Linked DNA regions of Homo sapiens: region 1 is linked to region 2. The links come from fine-mapping of genetic effects on gene expression. A gene starts in region 2. The other region holds a variant in brackets. All regions are shown on one strand. Distances are between the middles of the regions.

The links. PIP is the estimated chance that this variant, and not a neighbour inherited with it, causes the effect. A credible set is the group of variants that fine-mapping cannot tell apart.
Region 1: its variant is the best candidate, but not a certain one, in a credible set for the expression of GYPE in whole blood (INTERVAL, PIP 0.63).

What each region holds. Positions count from the first base shown.
Region 1 is chr4:143,995,460-143,999,459 of GRCh38, forward strand. GYPB (glycophorin B (MNS blood group)) reads right to left here. Exons shown (of 5, transcript NM_002100.6): 3 at 3,952-3,990; 4 at 2,081-2,175; 5 at 645-845. The coding sequence ends at 840. Among named protein-coding and RNA genes, the nearest start is that of GYPB, 22 kb to the right of the region's middle. The variant A/G (reference allele first, on the strand shown) is at 2,281.
Region 2 is chr4:143,903,925-143,908,421 of GRCh38, forward strand. GYPE (glycophorin E (MNS blood group)) reads right to left here and starts at 1,635. Exons shown (of 4, transcript NM_198682.3): 1 at 1,547-1,635. The coding sequence starts at 1,583. All of the region lies in intron 9 of LOC105377459 (a long non-coding RNA gene), which reads left to right.

The DNA of each region.
Region 1 (4,000 bases), 91 kb after region 2:
GTGTACTAGAAGAGGAAACGTGCTGCACATTGGGACCCCAGGTCCTTTGGTTTAACCTGTCCTTTCTGAGGCGTGGGCATCCTGGAGTCCCTCAGAGATTTCTGACCCAGCCATCTCAGTAAGATCTGCTGTGTTCTGGAGGTGATGAGTGCTCTCCAGAGTTCATTTGAAAGTCAGGCCCTTCTCTACGTGCTCCTACCCCTGTGCCTGTCATTCTCTTTACTGTTGAGGAGGGACCTTAACTCCTGGCAGGTGAACTATAATTAAGATCAATGGATACTAAAGTAAGCCTATCAAAAATCTGGTTTTTGACAAAGATTTGAATAGAATTTGGTCCTTGCCCTCAAGGATCTCACAGTATGATAAACTTGTCTTTGCTTTTTAAATTACAGTGCCGTTTCAGCAGTCAGGCACCTTGGGTACTTGACTGAATCTTGTTCTTTTCCAATATATTTCACATGAGACTTCATGTTATCTTGGACAACCACCTAATGAGAGTCCAGGCTGAAGTCTTCATTCCCCTTCTGCATGTTCTCCGCTGTTGGCTTTGTTCAGACCCTTCTTTCTTCTCATCTATCCTACTGTAATGGGCTTTACATTTTAAACATAGCTTGAAATAACAAATCATGACTATAATACATGAAAACGGTTTGTATTTTGTTTTATTTTTATTTAGAAGTAGAGAATACAGTAATAGTGAGGCAGGAGAACAGGGAATTAGGATAGCCAGGGGTAGGGGCATAAGCAAAGGAATAGCAGGTGCAGCCAGTTTGCATAAACAAGAGAACAGCAGGTGCAGCCGGTTCTAGGCAAGATCAGGCAGCATGCAGGCCACATCCTCATGCCTGTGATAAAAAGACAAGAAGTTTCCACTTCAGCCTCTGCTTGACCATGAGCTAAGACTCCACTTCAGCCTCTGATTGGTCACAGGCCAATCCTTCACAGGCTGTAGCCAATTGGAGGCTTCTAAAGGGTACCTAGGGGTGTTGCCAAGTTCTTTTGGTTTTATAAAAACCCTAATTAGGGCCGGGCGCAGTGGCTCACACCTGTAATCCCAGCACTTTGGAGGCCAAGGCAGGTGGATCACTTGAGGTCAGGAGTTTGAAACCAGCCTGGCCAACACAGCGAAACCCCATCTCTGCTATTAAAAAAATACAAAAATTAGTCAGGCATGGTAGCCCGCACCTGTAGTCCCAATTACTGTGGAGGCTGAAGCACGAGAATCACTTGAACCAGGGAGGCAGAGGCTGCAGTGAGCAGAGATTGCGCCACTTTGCACTCGAGCCTGGGTGACAGAGGGAAACTCTGTCTCAAAAAAAAATTTAAAAAACTTTAATGATTCAAAAAAAATCACTGATGTTAAGAATTCATGGGTGGAAATTTGTAAAATCTGTTTCAGAACATGTGAGAATTAAGAAAGGCAAAAGTTTTATTTTATTTTTATTTATTTATTTATATATTTATTGAGACATGGTCTCACTCTGTTGCCCAGGCTGGAGTGCAGTAGCATGATCACAGCTCACTGCAGCCTTGATTTCCGAGGCTCAAGCAATCCTCCCACTTCAGCCCCCTGAATAGCTGATACTACACATGTGCACCACCAAGCCTTTCTAATTTTCATATTTTTTGTATAGACTAGGTTTCACCTTTTTGCTCAGGCTGGTCTCAAACTGCTGAGCTCAAGCAATCCTCCTGCCTTGGCCTCCTCCAAAGTTTTAAACATATGTAAATATATTATTTTAAATATTTTTTACACTAATAGGTTAAATACTATAAGAAGAATCTTAATATTTCCTCAATATCCATCAAAATATGTGAAAGCAAGTTAGACAAAAACTTAGGGAGATCTTTCATTGGGAAAATGGGGGACAGACTTATATTTAGAGGTTCCCTTTAATTGGGCAAATGCAAAAAAAAAATTCTGCTAGAGAAACACAGTGACTTCTATGTGTCCAGTTGAAAAAGATGGAATTTTATGCAGTTCTGTTTCTCTTCTGAGTTTAACTGAACTCAGAGGAATAAACCCTCCTAGAGCTGTTCACACTGGTATTTAGAGCAAAATTAAAAACTGAATTCTCACCTTTATCAGTCGGCGAATACTGTAAGAAATTAAGAGGATCGTTCCAATAATACCAGCCATCACACACAAAATAATGAGTATTATCACTACAGGAGCTAAAGAGAGCAGCAAAATTATGAAAGTCTGAAATAAATGACCACATAGCAATAGAAAAATAAGACAGATAACATCAGCATAACATCACCTTGCCTTTTAATACA[A/G]AGTACAGTTAACATACTATTATGTGTATTTTGTCTTTTTTTAAATTGTGTGCTTTACAGTAACCTTGTGGGAAACTGGGACTGTGAGTGATCAAGTCTTTTGTCCAAGGTCGCAAAATAGTTGATGACAGAACTAAGACCTGAGGCTTCTGATTCCAGACCCAGCGTTCTTCACTAGTGTAACTGTAGATAAGAACTCAGTGGACGTTCTCCTCAGATATGGGGAAAAAAACCCACAAATTCTCCCATAGTTTGGAAGTTATGAGAGAAAACAATGTCTTAACATATAAAAGAGCATTGAACAGATCATAGAATCATAATTTTGGAAAGAAACTGGTATAAACAGTTTACAAATGAAGAAAAGAAGCTGAATAAGGTTAACTTAGCCTTGGTCAGACAACTAGTTAAAAGTAGAATTATAACTATAATGCAGGTCATCTATATTCTAAGCTTTATTCCTTCCACAGTATTCTTATGCATAGTCTCCAATATAGTCACTAACAATGCTTGTTAAGTCATTTATATGTTGGGAATGAAACAATTGAAATCAATTAAGTAAGAGATATTTCCATATTTATAGCATATTTGTAGTACTTCCAGATGAAGTAAATAGAATGGAAGGCTAGACATACAGGTAAAATGGCTCATTTATTTGCCTAATTAATATTTAAATTATTCACAAAAAGTAAAAGTAGCATTTCCTCTTGCTGGTGTTGCCCAGCCTTCTTGACCACTTAGCTTGAATGTATGCGATAGTGATGAAGTTCTATGATGTGCTTTTTACCCTGTGAGCCATGGACACGGCCAAGTGTGAAGGGAGGGTTAGAATGCAGAATAGCAAATGAGCACACACAGTGATACTCAAGTGAGGGGAAGGGATGTCCCTTCAGCAGAGGTTGTCAAGATGGTCCCTAAGTGGTTGCATTGGGCCAAAAATGAATCAAGGCTGAGATTTACCCTTGAAATACAGTACCAGTTAATTAGATGATTTTAAATGCCTTGCTTTTTACATGAGGGCAGAGGGAACTTCACTTGTTTTATAAGCTCTTATGAGGCTTCTTTCAAGTACTCAGGGTTGGTTAGAAAGGTAAAACATCTAACTTAAGAGAAAAACTATTACCAAATTATGTATTTCTATTTCCAAATGTTTTTATTTATTTTTATTTACTTATGTATTTGTTTTTGAGACAGGGTCTTACCAAGGCTAGAGTACAGTGGCACAGTCATAGCTCACTGCAGCCTCAAACTCCCAGGCTCAGGCAATGGATCCGATCCTCCCACCTCAGCCAGCCTCCCAAGCAGTTGAGACTACAGGTGCATGCCCCATCCCAGCTAATTTTTGTATTTTTTGTAGAGATAGATTTTGCCATATTGCCCAGGCTGTTCTCAAATTCCTGGGCTCAAGTGATTAGCCAGGCTTGGCCTCCCAAAATTATAGGGATTATAGGCATGAGCCACGGCCCCTGGCCCCCAAAATGTTTTTAAAAATAAGAAATGCCTATTTTAATTTTAAAAAGAGAATATTTTCTTTGTCTTTACAATTTCGTGTGAATAAAGTTAACAACATATGCTCTTCTGTTTTAAGATAGACACATTTTCTTAGGCATTTGAAACAAGCAATGGATAGTTTAAAATGGAATGACTTTTATTCTTTGTCAAATATTAACATACCTGGTACAGTGAAACGATGGACAAGTTGTCCCGTTTCTCCTATAAAGCA
Region 2 (4,497 bases):
GTTTGAGTTACATCCAGTTTGGTTTGCCCCATGGAGCAACACAAAGAATACATCTTTTTTTTCTGTGTAATAGCACTTCAAATATATGAATACATATACAAATATTACACTACATCCCTTTCATTTGTTTTTTCTTCAAACTAAATGTTTTCATACTTTTCTGCTTAAAAAATTAGAGTAGCTATGTTTGTTTTCTGTTTTCTTTCTGTAATTTTCTTTTCTCTCTGACTTTTCAGAAATCACCAATCACATACGTAGGTTTGTTCCCTAGTCTGTAACTACTGATAGCTACTGCTTATTTTAATAATATATTATTAATACTTATTAATCATGATAGTTAATTCTAATCATAGAAAATGCATAGTAAGCTTAACATTTTACTTTGTTTCAGGCATCAGTAAGTGTATTCCATTAAACATTTTGTTTAATCTTTACGCAATTATTATAAGGCAAGTGCCAACATTGCCTGCATTTTAAAGACAAGGACACATAAAAATGTGGGCACATAATTTGCCTTAATGTTCCCCAGCCTTGAGAAGTAAAACTAGATTTGAACCCAGTTCTGTGTGTTCCTCATGCCTGTGCTCTTAACTATTGCACTATTTTATCCTCCCCTAGGGTATCTTAGAAAATGCTGATCTCTCTTCCCTGTATGCTACAGAGTATGCTCAGTAGATCCTCTCTTCCCTGTATGCTACTGTATGCTCAGTAGATCCTTGATACTTGCTCTCACTTGGATTACAGCAATGTCTAATAGACTCAGAATGTTTCAAGCAACTGCCTGCCCCCTGTGTGCTGGGCACTAGTATTGCTAACACATAAGCACTGCACTTGAGAGGATGTTTAACTATAATATTCTCAGAAAGAGGCCAAAATCATGTTTATTTAATACACTAAATTAATAATTAAATTTAAACTAAGTTAAATTCAAATTATTGAATACAATTTAATAATGACCCTATGATATTTATTTTAATGGATTTAAATTTCTCCTAAAATTCACATGACATCTAAGCCAGTAAGAGTTGTTTTTGTTTTTGTTTCTTCCTATGTGACACTTTAGTAATGGACCCACAGAGAAGCGAACAACTCCCCACGGTTTCAGTGTTCATGCTTTTGGCTTCTCACCATTTGGCAGAAATAGGAAATTATACCTTTTTAAAACTAAAAGCCATATAACACCTTTGTTAATAACTCTTTAGTTTGGAAATGAATCTCCTTATAACTCAAACAAAGCAATACATTTATTCACAGAGAGCTATTTCTCATAGCATTTGATAAAATTAGTTTAATTCTAGCTAGACTTAGAATTGAAGTAAGCTTCTCATACTAGAAAACTGGATTCGGCCATAAATACTGGGCTCCCTTGTGCCATTTCCCCCACATTGGTAGCTGAGTTCCAGTAAAATCCATCCACCAGACTGGAAGAGGAAATACTACTCATTTATGCATTTAAATAAGATAGAACTAAAATAGGGTAGTTTACATTTTATTCTATGATCTCATACCCAATATAACAGAACCAAGATGAAATAAAATCACTTACCTGACAATAGTAATACAAAGATTATTTTTCCATACATCCTGAGATCACGAGCTGGCTCCTGAAGTTAGTGCAAAAAAACTACCAAAGACAACTGCAAGTGTCAGTGTCTGGCCTTAGCCTGCTAGCTGTTATCTTCCAGGCCCACCTTCCTGTGGCCATCATCAGCTGATAGGCAGGGGAGGCATTTTAAATGATGCAAGTTGTTAAGCGCCTGTTAATAAAGATACATGGATATCTTGGGGCTATGAAAGTGGTAAGTACAATTTTCACTGCAAGGAACAGGTGGCTACTTGTGATATTAACTTTGCATCAGTTAAGTGGGCATGGTAAGGTGGTAGACAGGAGCCACCCAACTGGACAAAGAACTGGACTGTGAATCTCTGAGGCCAGGGCACGTGCCAGGCTGAGGTAGCTGTTGTGGAGCCATAGACCTTCTCATTTCTAATGTCAAGACCCGGTGGTCCAGATGAAAGTGACTTCCTATATGTGAAATGAACATATTTGAGAAATTTAAATCATTTGAGTGTTCTGAGGTTCTGAAAGACTCCCAAACTCATGGTGAGTCACACAGCAATGTAAGAGACATGAGATGCAACAAATCTTTCAGTGAAAATAGAGTTTGAACTGAAGAGCTAGTGCTGTGCAGCTATGAAACCAGTGAGCTGTTTCTGTCTGAAATATACCTTGCTAAGTAAGCATAAATGAATACCAAGACAATAAATGAAAACAGTCAGAAACAAAACCCAACAAACCAAAAACCTTATCATTAAAGTAGGTTAAAATGAAAGGTATGGAAATGTGAGGAAGCTCAATTTTAAAGGGAGACAGAACAAAAAATATAAATTAGGTCTGAAATGGTTCAACAGAAGGTGACTGGATACTCCATCTAAATCATCTTACTTCCTGTAAGATTTTTGTGAAAGTCTTTCCTGCCTGACCCAGAAAATCAATTTGCTATGTAAGCAATTTGCCACATATATCATACTTACATATTTACCCAAAGTGTGGTTTAAAAAAATCATTTATGAAGCTAATGTTTGCAGATTCAGGAAACTGGACCACAGAGAAAAAAAAGTATTTACTGGATAAAAGATGGAGATAAGTATCAGCAGAGCATCCCAGAGAGGGAGGAGCCTGAGATTGAGGGACTAATGGATGGAGGGAGTGGAGATGCAGACTTGGGAGAGACGGAAGAATGAATGACACAGACGGGGTAATCTGAGCAGCAGGAAAAGAATCCAGAGTGCCTCTTAAGGCCCTGCCAATTCATGTAAAACAACTGCAGCAAATTTTATTAAAAACTTAAAATTAAACAATACATAATAATTTAATACCTTCCATAAATTCAGTGTTTGTTATGGCTGGATATCAGTTTGGGTTGCAGGAATTGTGCTCAAGAGTCAACCAAGTAAAGGAAATGTTGTTGATATTCATATAAGCAGTAAGAATTAATTCACATGATTTTATATTGACAAAGGGAGAGCGATTAGCATGAGTCTTAAAAATGCTATTTCTGAAAATGGGTAAATAAATGTCACTATTCTTACGATGGACTATTAGAGCAACTATTAAAATCATGTTTTCAAAAATAAAGATATGGAGACTCAGGATAAAATGGATAAGTGGAAAACAGCAAGATCTGAAAATTGTATATACACAAATAAAATCCTATTGGATTCTTTTTTTCCTGGGTTGTGCTATCTTCACCTGGAATACACCTACTCCTTTTTAGGTGGCCTCCAATTCTGCTTAGGGTCTTCATTGAATAGTACTTCCTCCACGAAGCCTTCCCTGACTTCCTGTCTTTGTCAGGTGCCCCTGCTCTATACTTGTGTGGTTCCATCTTCTTCCCTTATCACAGGACTTATTACACTACGTTGCAATCATTGTGTCTCCACTGGACTACAGTTTTTAAGTGGACACACCCTGACTATGGCTATCTTATTTACCAATGAGTGCTTGGGGCACACTTGACAATAAATATTTCTCAAATCAATAAATGACAAATGAATATTGCAGTGCAGAGGAAAGCAACTTCTCACGGGCAGTCCTGGGTGTATAGGCTGATCATTTTTTATATATCCTGCGGGTAACCTATGTCATATCCTAGCTTCAGGTTCCCTCCAGTATGGAGGTCCATTGCTAAGGCAGGAAGGGGAAAATGAAAAGGAAACTCAGCCTAAAATTCAGCTTTCATACCTTCTTCAGCCTGGACTGGTCAGAGTCTGAGAGTGCTTTCTTTTCCATGACCTCCCACTTTCCTTTCCTGCAGAATCACATCGTTAGCAATTCTCTAAACTCCTGTAGTGCTGACACAGGCCTGTTTATTAACACCTGTCTCAGGTTGTTGTGAACAATCTGTTCCTTTGTATTTGTGGGTCCTGTCTCTGTTGTTCTGTTTCCAGCATCTGGCACAATGCCCTATAGAGTACCTGGCCCTATTAAAGTAAGTCAAAACCTGGAGGGTTCTCAATGAGGAAATCAGAGGTCAGATTCAGCACCTCACACAGGGTGTGAGGAAGCAGTGCCGTACAGTGCTCTCTAGTGGCGTATCTGCACAATGGAAGGAAAAAATGTGAGCCCCGTAAATGCAACAACAAAAAAAATACATCAGATTACATTTTTCTCTTTCAGGCATTCCTTAATCTTCTTTAAATTTTTCAGAAATATTTTTACTGAAGTACACATTCATAATTATCATAAAATTCTACCTATGAGCTATATCATGCAAATTATTAGACAAATCCACATCTTTTAAGAATTTTGAATCTTTGCATAAAATAAAACAAGTACTTTTGAGGCATTTAATCAAACATAAAAAACTTATCCAATTTTCTTGATACTACATGTCTTTAAGCTATTTTTTGAATTGCCCGAGTCATTTCTATGACGTAGTTAAGAAGGATGAAGTTCAATGTTATAATCTAGGAAAGGCAACTTGGATCGATCAA